Regions from separate parts of the Homo sapiens genome. Here all the other regions are linked to region 2. Evidence: fine-mapped expression QTL. A gene starts in region 2. Each other region holds a variant in brackets. All regions are shown on one strand. Distances are between the middles of the regions. Region 1 overlaps SH3BP2 (SH3 domain binding protein 2). Region 2 holds the start of SH3BP2 (SH3 domain binding protein 2). Region 3 overlaps SH3BP2 (SH3 domain binding protein 2).

What was found. PIP is the estimated chance that this variant, and not a neighbour inherited with it, causes the effect.
Region 1: its variant is fine-mapped to the expression of SH3BP2 in whole blood (TOPMed, PIP 0.92).
Region 3: its variant is fine-mapped to the expression of SH3BP2 in whole blood (INTERVAL, PIP above 0.99).

What each region holds. Positions count from the first base shown.
Region 1 is chr4:2,821,622-2,826,952 of GRCh38, reverse strand. It overlaps SH3BP2 (SH3 domain binding protein 2), which reads right to left. Exons shown (of 13, transcript NM_001122681.2): 3 at 3,916-4,018; 4 at 2,223-2,340; 5 at 1,757-1,827. Among named protein-coding and RNA genes, the nearest start is that of ADD1, 20 kb to the left of the region's middle. RefSeq lists enhancers at 1-117, 118-1,004. The variant C/T (reference allele first, on the strand shown) is at 3,020.
Region 2 is chr4:2,789,845-2,795,175 of GRCh38, reverse strand. It overlaps SH3BP2 (SH3 domain binding protein 2), which reads right to left and starts at 2,091. Exons shown (of 13, transcript NM_001122681.2): 1 at 2,038-2,091. RefSeq lists a silencer at 2,024-2,373.
Region 3 is chr4:2,829,098-2,834,428 of GRCh38, reverse strand. SH3BP2 (SH3 domain binding protein 2) reads right to left here. Exons shown (of 13, transcript NM_001122681.2): 8 at 4,282-4,936; 9 at 2,750-2,858; 10 at 2,451-2,506; 11 at 2,017-2,098; 12 at 1,380-1,439; 13 at 1-732. The coding sequence ends at 595. Among named protein-coding and RNA genes, the nearest start is that of ADD1, 12 kb to the left of the region's middle. The variant G/A (reference allele first, on the strand shown) is at 2,076.

The DNA.
Region 1 (5,331 bases), 32 kb before region 2:
ACACAAGCACACGCAGGAACACAGGCACACAGGCATGGATATATATACACAAAGACACAGGGACACGCGCAGACATGTAGACACACAGACACAAGGACTCTGTCACACAGACATGGAAGTATACAGATAAACACAGATACAGGACAAGCACACATGTTCACACACAGACGAGCGACACACGGACACGCACACACAAACACAAGCAACACGCGGACATGCACACACACAGAGCAACATGCGGACATGCACACACACACAGAGCAACATGAGGACATGCACACACACAGAGCAACACGTGGACATGCACACACACACAGAGCAACACGCAGACATGCACACACAAACACAGAGCAACACACAGACATGCACACACACACAGAGCAACATGCAGACATGCACACACACACACACAGAGCAACACGCGGACATGCACACACACACAGAGCAACACGCAGACATGCACACACAAACAGCAACACGCGGACATGCACACACACAGAGCAACACGCGGACATGCACACACAAACACAGAGCAACACGTGGACATGCACACACACAGAGCAACACGCGGACATGCACACACAAACACAGAGCAACACGCAGACATGCACACACAAACACAGAGCAACACGTGGACATTGCACACACACACACAGAGCAACACGCGGACATGCACACACACAGAGCAACACGCGGACATGCACACACACGGAGCAACACGCGGACATGCACACACAGTTACAAGGACAGACAGAAGAACTGGAGGCTGTGGTGCCTCCACTAGGTGCCCCTTCTGGCCCACAAGGATGGCCGCCCTGACTGTGCCCACGTCTCCACCTGCTCCTGCCTCAAGAGGGCTTGGGCGACTCTGGGCTGGGCCCGAGGCTGAACAGCTTGGACCAGGGGACGGGAGCCCGGAGTCAGGCAGGGACCTGCAGGGCAGCCTTGGCTGTGCCCAGCCCTCCCTGGGCCTCCTGTCCCCACCTGTGAAAGGACAGGAAGGTTTGTTCCCTCCACATCGTCTCGGGCCAGGAAGTCCCAATCCAGAGAGTATCTGCTGCACGTCGGGCCAGCTCACGGGGGAGGCTGCCAAGGCTCAGACTGCCCAGTGGCGCCCCGCCAGGAGAATCATTCTGGTCTCACTCTGAGTGAGCCAGGGTGGGCGTAGGGGGCTGGGAACCCAAAGTGCCCAGCTGCTGCCATGCCAGGCCTCCCTGGTGGCAGGCGTATAAACACACATGATCCCCTAACAGGAACTACCCATGGCGGCAACACAGAAACAGATGTGACAGATGGGGCTGGAGGTAGACAGGAGCAGAGAGATGCATGCACACCTGTGCATGCTCTGTGTGTGTGTGCATGTCTGTGTGTTGCTCTGTGTTTGTGTGTGCATGTCTGCGTGTTGCTGTGTGTGTGTGCATGTCCACGTGTTGCTGTGTGTGTGTGCATGTCCACGTGTTGCTCTGTGTGTGTGCGCATGTCCACGTGTTGCTCTGTGTGTGTGCATGTCCGCGTGTTGCTTGTGTTTGTGTGTGCGTGTCCGCGTGTCGCTCGTCTGTGTGTGAACATCTGTGCTTGTCCTGTATCTGTGTTTATCTGTAGACAGGAGCAGAGAGACGCAGCCCAGCTGGCACCTCCAGGAAACCTTTAAGGACGGAATTCTATGCCAAGCCCGGGGCTGGGAGGCGGACACCCGGGTCAGGCCCAGGCGCCCCAGGGACCCTCACTGCCCGGTATGCCCTGGGCCCGGGCTCACCTGGTGTCCAAGGGCAGGTCTTTCTTTTCGTGGAAGTGGCCAATCTCCCTGCGCAGCAAGGCCATCCAGCTCTGCAGGTCAGCGGGGCTGTGGTGGGCACGGTGCCACCAGGGTGGGCCCCACCGCACCCCTCCACCTTCACTGCCCTGCCTGCTCTGCTGTGACTCCCAAGGTCAGAGGAGGCGACCCGGCTGGATACAACATGGCTGTGTGGCTCCCCTCAGCCCACAGGGGCACCTCCCAGGACAGCATGTTCCTTGTGTGGGCGCTGGCACCAGGCTCTGGGCATGGGGATGGAGCTGGGGCAGCACCCACCCAGCTGCCTGTGTCCCAGCCACACCTTCTCTTTGCCCGGGGCTGAGAGGCCAGCGCCCCAGGACCAGCGAGCCCCCAAGGCAGGTCCAGCCTGGTGCCTGCAGGCCCACACCCCCAGTCACCTTGCACTCGTCCTCGGACCCCCAGTCACCTTGCGCTCCTCCTCGGAGGAGGCCGAGAAGAACCACGTGCGGTGCTTCTTGCTGATATGGATGATCTTGAAGGGGAAAACGTTGTTGGACGTGGTCTCCTCAGCCGCCCGCATCACCCTGGGGGCACAGCGCCAGGGGTCACGGCCTGGTTCACAGCTATAGGGATGGCCTTCCCACAGCACCCCCCTGTGAACACGTCTCGGCACCAGCACCACGCCCCAACGGAAGAGGGCAGATCGGGTGGGCCCTGGCTGCTGATGCTCCCAGTAGTGAGCTTCATGCCCAGGCAGGCGTAAGGGGGCATGGAGGGGCATGGAAGAGGGGTGCTGGGTGGGCTTCGTGGGAGCAGCAGTGCACAGGAGACAAGGACAAACCTGCCTCGATGCCCGCCAATGCCACTTTACATGGACGCCACCCTCCCACCTCTGGCCCCATTTGCCCAGGCCTGCTTGGCCTCCCTGGGGTACCCCACAGGGCTCCGTGCCCCTGAGGCCCAGCAGCAGCCCTGAGTGCATTTCAGGGAATGACTCGTGCCTGCTCTGCGGCCCACTCACACAGCCAGGATGTGGGGTTTGCGCTGAGTTTATCACGTGGGGAGCCCTGCCAGCCAGGCACCGGGGCAGGTGCACTTATACGGCCCATAAGAGCCTGGCCAAAACTCCTCAGGCCCAGCATTCCCTGATGGGCTAGACAATTCCCTGGGGCATGATTGCATCTGCCACTGGGCCCAGGGTTCATGGCATGGCTGGCACATGCTGGAGGCCGGAAGGCGCTGTGTCTGTCTGCAGAAAGGGAA[C/T]GACCTTCCCCAGGGGACCCCGGAGCTCTGTGCCAGCATGGGGGCCTGGCACCAGGCTGGGTGCTCTGGCAAGGCTGCCCTACCAGGCCTGTGGCCAGGGTGCAGGCCGGGGCCTAGAGTCACTCCAAAGGTCCCAGTTCCACTACTGATACCATGTGACCCTTGGTTCCTCATAGGCAGGAGGGGCTGGGCCCTTAAGGGGTGGTAAGAGGCATAGATAAATGCTGTGGGGTGCAGGGCTCCGATGGGATAGCAACCAGAACCAGAGCTGGGTGCCAGCATTAACCCTTTGTGTGGGCCCCAGGCCATGGGCTGTGCCAGTGCACTCCCCCACCCACATGCCACCTGGCCACCGCCCACCTGCCTGTTAGTGCAGAAGGCCCTCCAGGGCAGCTCATGGCCCATCACTGGATAGAGCCCAGCCCAGGACATGCGTGAAGCTGGAAACTGATCCCGGCCTGGGAGGACCCTGGAGCAGGGAATCCTAGGGCCCAGCCTCTGTTTGGGACAGGGCCTGGGCTGGCTGGGGTCTGGGCTGCCTGGAAAGAGGTCATGGTGGGTGAAGGGGCAAGGTGGGGAGGGAGGAGAGATGCAGAAGTCACTGGGTGGTGGCCGAGTGGAGACTCTGGAGAGCAGGCTGTCCAGGCCTCTGGGACTTGTGCACAAAGCCACAGGAAGACCCTGGCACCCCCAAGGTCCTGCGCCTGAGGGCAGGACACGCGGAGAGGGCGAGGCACTGTGGAGGCTGGGCGGGGAGGACAGGGGATGGGCACGAAGGCTGCTTCGGGAAAGCACTTTCCTTGGGCGGGAATAAGGGGCAGGCCCAGCTGGGGCTCTGCTGGGAGGGACCCGCTGGCTGTGGGGGCCCGAGGTCAGCAGGCAGGTCGGGCACTTACCGGTTATAGCCACTCAGGGAGAAGGCGCCCTGCGGGGAGGCAGAGGTGCTACTCTTGAAGTAGTAGACGCAGCGTTTGTGGATGATGACAAAGCGCAGGGGCCCTGTGGGAGGTGGCAAGGGCAGGAAGGTGAGCCTGGAGGGGCAGCTGCCAAGACCCACTGTGAGGACCCTCCACAGGACAACTTGGGGCCAGGCCTCCTGCCTCTAAGCCTTACCAAATGGAAGAGCAGGGAGCAAGGCTGGCATGCTGCCCCCTCCCCAGGAGCCCACTCTGGGGCCAAATACGGAAAAAATTGTAGGCACACTGGCTAGCCCCAGAGTGCCACCCGAGGGCAGGCCTGGCTGCCCACAAAGAAGAGGTAGATTTGGGGGGCTGTGTGGAGCCAGCATGAGGCAAGGCAGAGCCAGGACCAGAGGCCCAGGGAGGCCACAGCTGACTTGCTGGGTGCTGCAGGGCTGTTGGAGGCTCCCACTACCCCAGAGCTAAAAGAGGGGGACTAAGGCCGGGTGCAGTGGCTCACGCCTGCGATCCCAGCTACTCAGGAGGCTGAAGCAGGAGAATTGCTTGAACCCGGGAGTCAGAGGTTGCAGTGAGCCAAGATCGTGCTACTGCACTCCAGCCTGGGTGACAAGAGTGAGACTGTCTCTAAAAATAAAAGATGGGGTGAGCCTGAGCAACATGTGAAACCCCATCTCTACAAAAAATACAAAACTTAGCCGGACACGGTGGCATACATCTGTAGTTCCAGCTACTTGGGAGGCTGAGGTGGGAGGATCATTTGAGCCCAGGAGGTCGAGGCTGCAGTGAGCTGTGTTCGCACCCACTGCACTGCAGTCTGGGTGACAGAGTGAGACATAAAAATAATAAATAGGCCAGGCGCGGTGGCTCATGCCTGTAATCCCAGAACTTTAGGAGGCCAAGACAGGATCACTTGAAGTCAGGAGTTCGAGACCAGGCTGACCAACATGGTGAAACGCTGTCTCTACTAAAAATACAAAAATTAGCTGGGCGTGGTGGCACACTCCTGTAATCCCAGCTACTCAGGAGGCTGAGGCAGGAGAATTGCTGGAACCCAGGAGGTGGACGTTACAGTGAGCTGAGATCAAGTCACTGCACTCCAGCCTGGGCAACAGAGCAAGACTCCATCTCAAAAAAATAAATAAATAAAAAACAAAAATAAATAAAAAATAGGCTGGATGCGGTGGCTCACACCTGTAATCCCAGCACTTTGGGAGACCAAGGCGGATGGATCGCTTGAGCTCAGGAGCTCCAGGCCAGCCTGGGCAACATAATGAAATTCCATCTCTACAAGAAATTTAAAAAAAAATTAACAGGGCATAGTGGCATGCCTGTAGTCCCAGCTGAGGGGATCACCTGAGCCTGGGAGGTTGAGGCTGCAGTGAGCCATGATCA
Region 2 (5,331 bases):
AGGACCAGGGAGAGCACCCTCAGCGACCCACTGTCACTGAATACCAAGCACATGTCACCACCACCACCATCCCCCCTACGGACACTCATAGCCACCCACCAGGTACAAAGTGCTTCACAGCCCTCAGGTCATGGATGAGAAAACGGAGGGGTGGCAGGGGGAAGCCTCCTGGCCATGATCACACAGCTGGAAACTGGTGGCATCTGAGTTCACACCCAAGATCCTGGCTGAGTTTGCGCCCTTCCTCCCTGCCCCTCAGGAACCAAGGCTGGCCATCTCGTCTCTCTGGGCCCCTGGACTTCCCGTCTGTGGGCCTGCTTGTGTGCGTGCATCCCTGGGGGGTGGGGAGCTCCAGCTGACTCAGCACCCTGCTTCCTCTGTCCATGTGGGCAGAAAGGGCCAAGGCAGGCCCAGAGCCTGTCCTCCCTCTGTCTGCCTCTTCAGGCCAGCCTCCTTGGTGGGCTCCCCCATGATCCTGGAGGCCTGGGGACTCCCTGAAAGGCCAGGTCCCCTGTCAGCACCCCTCTCACCAGATGGCCCTGGCTGGCAGTTCCTAGACACGGCTGCCTATCTGTCTTCCTTCTGCCTGCCCCCTCCAGGGTGTGCCTAACGCAGGGCACAGAGCCAGGCAAAGGGAGCCTGGCGGGTGGCAGGGAGAGGGGATAGACAGAATCCTCACTCCCTTGCAGCCCTCGTCCCAGGCCTCCTGTCCTGCCAGGAGTGGAGTGCCTGGAGTGGGGCCCTGAGGTTGGGCTCCAAGAGGGCCCTTCGACGGTGTCTACGTAGAGGAGACAGTGGACAGAGTGGGAAGAACCAGGAGGGGGTGGAGCCCAGCCCCTCCTCTGGTCCCACAGGGCCTGAGCCAGTGAGGGCAGGAGCTTGTCCAGGCTCATGGAGTTGGTGCAGGGCTGACCTGAACCCAGAGGCTTGCTTCGGCAAGGAGGAGGCTGTGGGCCCTGCCTTCAGGCGGTTGTGGAAACAATTCTACACATTGCATCACCGGCCCATGTCACCTGCAAGGCCACACACATGTCATCCAGGCAGGCTGTCCACCCCAGCAGCCCACACGGAGTACCCGCCCCTGGCCACAGCCAATTCGAAGGACTTAAGTGTGGCCACTAGACCAGGAGGCACAGCTGTCCCCAGTGTCAACAGATGAGCAAACTGAGGCACAGAGAGGGGATAGGAGGTGCTCACGGAAAGGAGCACCAGCAGAAGGCTCCCCACAGCAGGGCTCAGGCCCTCAATACCCCCAGGGAGCCGAGGCCCAGAGCAGCGGGAAAGTGCTGGGCTGCAGGGAGGCCAGCGTACAGGTGGAAGGGGCTGTCCCCGCCCCCTAACTCCTCCAGTCCCTCTGCCACCCCTGAGATTCCCTGTTGCCCATGAGAGTCTCAGACGCCCGGCTATCAGTCACTCACACTTCAGTGTGAATCAGCGCCAGTGGGCGGCTTTTCTTGCCCTCCGTGAAGCGCGGCCGCTGCAGAGGGAAGTTTGGATTCCGGGAAGGGCGGAGAGCGAGTGCCCGCCGCAGCCTTTGAGTCTTGTGGGGAGGGTCGCGTAAAGGGGCCCCGCCGCGGGGCCAGAGGGGCGCGAGGGGTGCGAAACAGACGCGTCGCACCGCCTCCCACCCCTGAGCCCCCGGCAAGGGACACCCGGCCCCCGCCCCGAAGCCGCGCTCCCTCGGGCACTGCCCGCCGTGCCCAGGCCCCGTGCGTCCTTTGGCAAGGACACGGAGGCCCCGGGGCCCGGGGGAGGCTGCTGCGCACCCGAGACCCCCGACACCCGCCCATACCTGCCGGGACCCTGAGACTCCCCCGAGACCTGCCAAGACCTGCCGGGACCCCTGAGACTCCCCGGAGACTCCCCCGAGACCCCCGAGACCCGCCGAGACCTGTCGGGACCCCGAGACTCCCCCGAGACCCCCGAGACCCGCCGAGAGCCCCCAGACCGCCAAGGCCCGCCGAGCCCCTTCCAGACGCGGAGACCGCCCCCCCGCGAGACCCCCGAGACCCGCCGAGACCCGCCGCCGAGGCTTACCCGCCGAGCGCTCTCCTGGCCCGCGGGCCCTGGGTCGAGGCGGCGGCTTGACTCGGCCGCCAGGCGCTCCCGCCCGCGGGACCCGCCGCCGCCGCAGCTCCGTCCCGCCCGCGCCCGCCCAGTCCGCCCTCCTCCTGGCCCCGCCCCGGCCCCGCCCCTCCCCGGCGGGTCCCGCAATCCTGGAGGTCCGAGCTGGGCGTGGGGCGGGGCCGGTACCTCAGGGTGGGCGGGGAACTGCACGTGGCCTCCGCGGCCCCGGGACGAGGCCCCTGGGGGGCGAAGACTGGCGTTGTCGCGGGCCTAGACGCCGGGTCCACAGTAGGTGCTTAGTTCTCGCCCGTGAGTGAGGTAGCGTGTCTGTCCCTCCTGCGTGTCCCTCCCAGTGACACCCCAGTGCCCAGCGACCCAGGTGGAAAGGGCGCTGTCCACCCCCCCAGCCCCGTGGTCCTGATCCTGGGCGGCCCCACCCCTGCCCCGTGAGTGCGACTTAGGCCCTGGCCAAGACAGGAGCAGGGGAGGTGGGGGAGGGCTTGCTGGGCACCAGGAAACCTTGTCTTTGTTTCCAAATGTCCTCCAGGGTACTTTTCAGGCACTTCCCAGGGGGACCTCGCCTCTTGGACCAGGTCTGGACTCCGGTGGCCCAGAGGTCGTCTTGGGGCTGGGAGGCACAGGAGACCGGGTGCTTTACACTTGGCCTCCTCTGAGGCTCCCTTTCCTCCACCATCACCCTCTCCCTAAGAGTAGGCCCAGATGCCTTGGTGTAAGGGCAGGGGCGAGAAGAGGAGGGGCTTCCTGGGAGGAAATGGCTTCCCTGGGGAGCTCTCAGGGCCAGGTAGGTGGAGGGAGCCGTGGAGAAAGTGAAGAGGCTGGGGAGACCAAGCTGGGCCTGCAGAGCTTGAGGGCGAGCGGACCCCCCACCAGTGCGGGAGTCAACTGCTTGGGGCGTGGGGGGACTCCTCCCCATGAGGAGTGGGGACTGGACCCCAGGTCCCAGAGCCCAGGAAGCTGTGAGTAGAGGAAGGACAGGATCTTGCTGGGAACCCAAGGGAGCTGGGGGTGGGTGGTGGTGACCTGGCCCTGTCCAGGCAGGCGGCCAAGGTCTGACCCTCTGTACTGAGCACAAGAGGCCAGAGTCCAATGACAGGGGCTGAATTGGCTGCTCCAAATCAGGCAGGGGCAGGGGTGTCCAGGGCTGGCCCTGCAGCAGGTGAAGGACTGGGTTTGGGTCCTACAGGTTGAAATACCTGAGGGCCTCCAGGAGACACAGCCAAACCAAGCGGGTTCTCAGGGTTGCAGCTGGACCGAGTGTGGGCCAAGTCACCGTCCACCTGTCCCAGAGCTGCCCAATAATGGGTCCCAAGCCTCAGAAAGGGGATCCCTGGCTGCAATAGCCCTCCTCCCTGCTGGAGAGACACACTTGGGATCAGAGAGGTTAACTGGGGAGGGGAGTAAGTGGGAGGAGTCAGAAAACTAGGTGGCCAGGCCCTGAGCCCAGGCATAGAGGAAGAGCCAGTGCCTACCAGGAAGTGACCAGGACCAAGGCAGGGCCTCTGGAAGGGAAGGGACAAAGCAGGGGATGGCAGAGGCAGGGGAGGATATGGGAGAGTCTTCAGACAACAGGGCCCCTTTTCCCCATCTGTGAAATGGAGGGGGTCCTCTACTGGGGAGGCGGCAGAAGTGGATGGGGCATGACAGCAGGCAGATACTCACTCTACCTGGCCCAGGGCCACCCCTCACACCGGCGCTGGGGCTGTGACTCTACCCACCTACAGCCTAGCTCTCGGGGCTGAACTTAGACCCCAGTGAGGGAGTAGATGGGTGCTGGCTGGCTGGGGTGCTCACTCTCTGGGGTGCCTGCTCACATCCCCACCTGTAAGTGTCCTGGGCCTGGCTCCCCAGGTCTCAACTCTGCTCATCCCAGCATTGGGTAGCCTGCAACTCTTCTGCCCACCCCCCACTCTGGGCTATTTCACATTTTCCTAGCAGGGAGGAAGAGATAGGAACTACAGCCATTGTGGAAGTGGCTGGGCTCAGCCCCATCCGACGTTCAGTGCTGCCACTGTTAGCACCGCATGGGGCTGCGTCACTCCTGTAAGAGGCCACATGCGGAGGGAGCTCCAGGCTGGGCCAGACTGGTCTAAGGCTCCTGACAAAACACTCATGACCTTGGGGCTGTACATCTTGATGTCCCTGATGTCCAGTTCAGCTAAATAAATGCCTGGCCCCACACCAGACCCCGGGGACCCAAGATGATACAAGGAAGTCCCTACCCTTGTGGCTCACGAGAGGAGCAAATGGACAAATGAGCAGATGCCATTGGGTCACAGCAAGTGTCCTGTTCCCAGGGGACCAGCTGGGGAAAGGGGCAGAGACCGGGAGGGGAGTGGAGCAAAGCCAAACGTCGGTGCGGCCCCGCCAGGGCCTGACTACAGGGCAGGGTGTACAGGGCTGGCCTCAGATGCCAAGCTCAGAGTTGACGGAGCAGGGTCACTGCAGACAGTGTGGACGGACCAGGCGCCTAGAGAATGATCACCCAGAAATGCAAAGCACCTCTGTGCAGGGCACCTCAGCCAAACAGGGGGAACAGGGTGCAGCCTCCACCGTGGGGAGAATCCCACACCTCATATTCCTCCCCTTCTCCCCCCTTACCAGTCCAACCCCAGGGCGTGGGAGGAAGGAACTCCTAGTTGGGGCCTCAGGGCAGCTCCCAGCAGCCCCTCCGAGCAAGAAGCTGCTGGAGGCTGTGGCCAGAGCCTCTGGGCACCCAGGGGTTCCGCTGAGGCTGACAGAGCAGGGATGGGTGAGGAGGATGACCTCGCCTGCTGGGAGGGTATGCAGGGCAGGTGAGCAGAGGTAAGGCGAGGACCCCTGGCCGGCAGGGAGCTGGGGAGCAGACCTCCACAGGGCACATCCGGGGTAGAAGCCCATGGTGATGCCCCAATCACACCCACAGAATAAGGCCAAAGAGAAGGGGGCCGGTCCCCCGCCACACCCATCCCCCGTGTGCCATCGGCCATGCCACTGATTTGGCAGGACCCAGAACAGGCAGAGGCAGCTGCTGTCTGGGGGGTAGGGCAGGACCTGCTGAGGGTGAGGCTGACGGTTAGGATGGCGAGGGCAAGATCTGCCGCTGGTCTACGTGTCACAGGCGTCCCAGCAGGGGGCTTCATGCGCCTGCCAAGTCTCTTTTTCCTTCCCTGGGCCAGCAACCCTGGAGTCGTCCGCACTGATGCCTCTCTGCTCGCCCCACATCCCGTCCGCCCTGAAGGTTCTGTTGGCAAAGCACACCTGGAA
Region 3 (5,331 bases), 39 kb before region 2:
TCAGTGACCTGCACCCTGGAAGACAAGACAACCAACTGTTGGGGTTCCCGGGTACTGCTGCGGTCACCACTTAGACATCAGCATGGGCACCCAGTAAGCTGGTAATCCCCTCCTTCCCAATCAAGCCCCAGCCACCAAGGCAAAGCTCACTGCTGCTTTATTGGAGGCAACAGCCCCTACTGGAGCCTGTGTCTTAGCGTTCCTGGGGGTCCCAGGGCCAGCCCCGGCCCCCACCCAGCTGCCCTGGCCCTGCCTGGCTCCCAGCCCACTTAGGGGTGAGTGTGATGGGGGGACCAGTGTTCCTGTCCTTGGAGCCCAGGCACAGCTTGGTCCTGGGTTTCTGGGATTGGGACAGGGCAAGTTAGTGTGGGGCAACAGAGTCCCTTCGTCCTCTGGAGCCTGGCGCCTGGTTCAGCCCTAGAACCCAACCTGCTGGATGAGACTGGCTGGGTCCTACGAGATGTCCATCACAGAGGCCCTAGGCAAGCACAGCCTTGCTCCTGCTCACCCTCCCATGTGGGCCCATGTCCGTCTGTGTGGCCTGGGGTCAGGGCCCCTGTGACTGCCTTGGCCTGGCAGCCACATGGACTGCCATCACCTAGGCCCAGTGTAGCCGTAGGGGTGCCGCAGCAGCAGGCTCTGGTGGCTGGGCAGCACGTGGGTGTGGTAGTGCTCCACCATGCTGCCCACACTCACAAACAGGACCTCGCCCTCCAGGTAGAACTTAGAGTCCTGTGGGGGAAGAGAAGGGGGAGCGTCAGCAGGGCCAGGCCACTCTGCGGCTCTAGGCCTCAGTCTCCCCGTCTGTAAAACAAGGCAGCAGCATCAACAGCGGCATCACCAGGCTGGCCCCTGGCTGTCGGTGGTGCCCCCAAGGTGGCCTCCGCATCAGGCCTGTGCTCTCCATGTTCCCACCTCACTTCCCCTCCGTCCTCCATGTCCAGGAGCCTGCACCCAGAGCACTTCAGACAAGGTCAGGAAATGAACCTAGGCCAGGCACGGTGGCCCACGCCTGTAATCCCAGCACTGTGGGAGGCCGAGGTGGGAGGATTGCTTGAGCCCCAGAATTTGAAACCAGCCTGAGAAAGACAGTGAGACCCCTGTCCCCGCAAAAAGAAAAAGACAAGACAAGCAACCCAGGGTCTATGGCTGACCGCCCATCCCCACTAGGGTCAGTGGAGGACAAAGGTAGGCCACGAGAGGAGGGAGGCTGAGCAGGAGGGGTGGGGGGTGAGCGATGGTGGAGGGGAAGGGGAGGGCGGTATCCTGGAGGTGCCAGTCTCAGTCTACCCGCTGCCTATGCCTCATCAGGGAGATTCTGCCCTGCCCCTTGCCAGGCCATGCGGCCAGGGTCCCCGTCCCACTCAGAGCCCTCTCACCTTCTCAAAAATGCGATAGTTCCTCACTTTGTTAGAGGTTTCGTCCCACACAACCAGGACCTACAGGACGGAAGCGGGAGGCTGACGGCTCCCTGAGAAACAGCGGGACCAGCCTCGGGAGACCATGGGCTGGGGATAGGGGGGCAGAACCATCAAGGCTGGGTCCTGTGGCCCTCGGGGGGCGGGGAGGGACTCCAGACCACCTGCACAAGGACAGCGGGGGCGACACTGGCAGCCCTCAGAGAGCCTCTGATGAGCAACAGCTCATAACCACCAATAACCACTCCGACACACCCGGGAGAGCATGGCTCAGTGAGGTCACAACTTCACGCTCGGAGGGACACGGGCAGACCTGGCGTTCCCCTGCCCCATGTGGCCTCCGCCACCCCAGAGCATGAGCCCTACCCCACCCGAGTCCTGGCCCCCACTGGGAGGTGGCCATCATGGCCCCCAATTTGCAGATGGAGATCTATTAGGGAATAGATTGGGGGGTGCTGCTGGGAAGAGAATTCAGCTGAGACACCAAGTAAGAGTCCACAAGGGGAGTGGTTTAGGAACTGTGGAGTCCTGGGCCCACCCACAGCCTGGGTGTGTGGAGAGCCAGAGGGGCCCTGGGGCATCTTCCCCTGGCGCCTACCTTCCCCGACTTGGTAGAGGAGTTCCGGATGCAGTAGAGTCCATCCTGGGGCTCTCCCC[G/A]GGGGCTTGTAGCCTTGAACAACCTAAAATAAGACAGTCATATTAGCGGGTGAGTCCTCCTCGGGCAGCTTTCACACGGACCTTCCCGCCCCGCTCCCAAGCCTGGCTTTCTGTCCTCTCGCTGTTGTAGGTCTCAGGAGCTGAGCACGTCGGGCTGCCGTGAGGCTGACAGAAGCAGCCCAGCAGAGCCCTGGCCAGCCAGGGTGCCAGCTGGGCATGGGACAGAGCAGGGAGGTCCACTCCTCTGGTTTCTGCTGCACGCAGGGCCATGAACTTGTGCCAGCAACTCCCCAACACGGAAGCTAGTGAGAGGGACACAGAAGCAGGAAGCCGGGCATGGCGGAGGACCCAGCACACACAGGGCTTTGTGCTGACCTTTCCACTTCGCAGGACTCCGTGGTGTTGACGAAGACCGAGTTGGGCAGTGGCACCTGCAAGAGGCTGACGGTGTCAGTGCCAACGTCGGAGTGATCCACCCGCACCACCACTCCCCGGACGGTGGCCACCCGGTGCCGGGATCCGGGGCTTTACATGGTGCTGTGTCCCCCTAGGCTCCCGGGTTCTCGGGGGGTCCTTGCTCAGGACGGTCTGTGAGGGGCCGCCCTGGCCTATGGCTTTCCCACCACCTGTCCACCTACTGGCCACTGGGACCCAGGCTTGCCGCTCAGCCTTGCCTTCTCATAGTCCTCGTCCGAGTCGTCCCCGCCAGTGTCAGCCTGTGAGGGTTGCCGGGGCTTTTCAAAGGAGAAGCTCCTGAAACTCTGCCCATCGGGGGGTGATCGCCTGGAGGGGCAGGGAGAGGAAGGCAGGACCATTTCACTGTCAGACACGGGGCGGCCACCCTCTGCTCCCCTCCCCACTCCACCCTCTGTGTGAGGACGGCAAGCTGCCTGCTATGGCCCCTGTGACCCTAAAAAGCTCAGGACAACAGAGATCCGGGTAGGGCTCGTGCCGACTGCCCTGGGACAGCAGGAATCGCCCGACACCGGAGTCAGGGGTCAGGGCTGCCATGGATGCTGGCAAGGGAGTCCAGGGTTCCCAAGCTCAGTGTCATCACACCGTCAACAAGTGCTCTGGATGCTCGTGGGGAGGGGAGGTCCGGTCATGGCCAAATCACAGCCCACTCAGAGCCACAGGGGAGTGGACGTGAACTGGATGAACAATGCAGTGTGACCCCAAAGGACGCCCATGGCGTCCCTGCACGCCTCCCTGTGTGGCTAGCCGGTCCTGCTCAGCAAAGCCTCAAAGGCTCTAGGGAGGATTAACGGGCCACGCCAGCATGGGAGGCCAGCCTGTGGGTGAGGCTGAGCCCTGGAACCGCTATCCCCACAGTCATGGAAAAACGTGACTTCCGAACATCTGCATCTCTGCAGCCCTTGGTGAACTAGAACCACGAGTGTGACAAGGGCTGCTCAGAGGCACTTCCACACAGGCAGCAGGCATCTCAGAGGTGTTCGCAGAGCCCTGGGAGAAGGGCACCGTGGGCAAGGGCATTCGGGGGTGCGCGTGCCGGCCAGCACACCCATGCGAAACCTGCCCCTCCAGTTCCTGGACCCTTTGCCTGCCAGGCAAGGCAGGAAGCCCACCTGGGGTCCCAGATGCCTTTGACCACAGCCATTGGCGTAACTCTGTGGGAGTGGGGGACAAACTGGTCTCCTGGCACTTCCCAGAAATAAAGCAGAAAGCATTTCAGCAGGACGCGGTGGCTCACGCCCGTAATCTCTACACTTTGAGAGGCCGAGGCAGGCGGATCACTTGAGACCAGGAGTTCAAGACCAACCTGGCCAACATAGTGAAACCCCTGTCTCTACTAAAAATACAAAAATTAGCCGGGCGTGTTGGCAGGTGCCTGTAGTCCCAGCTACTTGGGAGGCTGAGGCAGGAGAATCACCTGAACCCCGGAGGTGGAGGTTGCAGTGAGCTGAGATCGCACCACTGCACTCCAGCTTGGTTGCCAGCGTGAGACCCTGTCTCAAAAAGAAAAAAAAACAAAGCATTTCCAGCAAGCTTCAGGGCTGAGTCATGGACATGCTCCACGTTCCACCAAGGCGGACTGGAGGCAACCGGGAACCTTCCTACCCTTGCACCTGGTACCCCGTCGTGGGCTAAGAGTGCCAGGGGAGCGAGGTGGGCAGAGTGCCCGTCAGAGGCCAGGCCAGGGTCCCTGTAGCTGGAGGCAGGGCTTGCAGCCGCCACACAAACTCACTGGAGGTGCGGGAGCTGCGGCTTCTCTGGCCTGGGCAGGACTGCGGGCCGCGCCATGGCCTCAGGCACTGGCAGCTTCAGCGCAGGAGGCCGGGGAGCCACGGGGGGCACAAAGAGTCCGGGCATGGCTGCCTCCCTTGGGGGGTCCTCTTCAGCTATCTTCAGGAACTTGGGCTTGTTGGCTGGCACAGGTGGGGGCTCAGATGTGGGTGGTCCTCGGGGGGACAGGTGGAAGGACTTGAGTTTGTCACAGTTTCTGGAGGTGGCAGTGGCCATGATGGCAGCACTGGAAGTGGAGCAGGCCCCGTGGCCAGGGGTCCAGGGCTCCGGGCTGGGGCTGGCACTCTCCCGGAAGCAAGGGGGTTTCCGGAGGCCGGGTGCGGTGGGCATGGTGCTCAGAGGGGGATCGCTCATCCTTCGGGGGGTAGCAGGTACCCTGGGGCAAGGCTCAGCCCGCCTCGGGCACAGTGGGTCCCTCTTGGAGTCCTCAGCAGCCAGGCCAACATCTGGGAGGCCGTGCTTAGGGGGCGGGGGTGGCAGTAGGGGACCGGGGCCCTTGGAGGTAAAGGAGTGGGCCCGGGGCATGTCAGAGAAGGCTGGCTTCCTGGGCGTGGGCACTGGGGGTGGTGGGTAAGCCGGTGGGTGCATCAGGGCATCTGCAGAGCAAAGAGACCCGGGTTGGACCCTGACAGAGACTGGGCCAACACTATCCTCTGCTGGCAGTGGTCAGCCAGGCCAACCAGGAGTGCAACCCATGGTAGGCCCACCCCACAGCCTGCCCACCCAGCAGCCCAGCACCCAGCACTCCCATCCTGCCTTCCCCAGGGTCCCAGACCACCCACCACCCCCAGCCTTCCCCATTCATCCTCCCTATGGCAGCCTGTGGACGCTTCCTGAAGCCTAGAGGACACCTGAGGAGCCCATCAGGTTCCCAGAGGTGGAAGGAAGAGAAAGGAAGAGAAGTCAAGAAGGATCTCAGGGCTCGGCTGGAGCGAGAGGGAGGACGGAATTCCCAAGGACAGGGGAGGGGAGCAGCTGGGAGGAAGGTGAA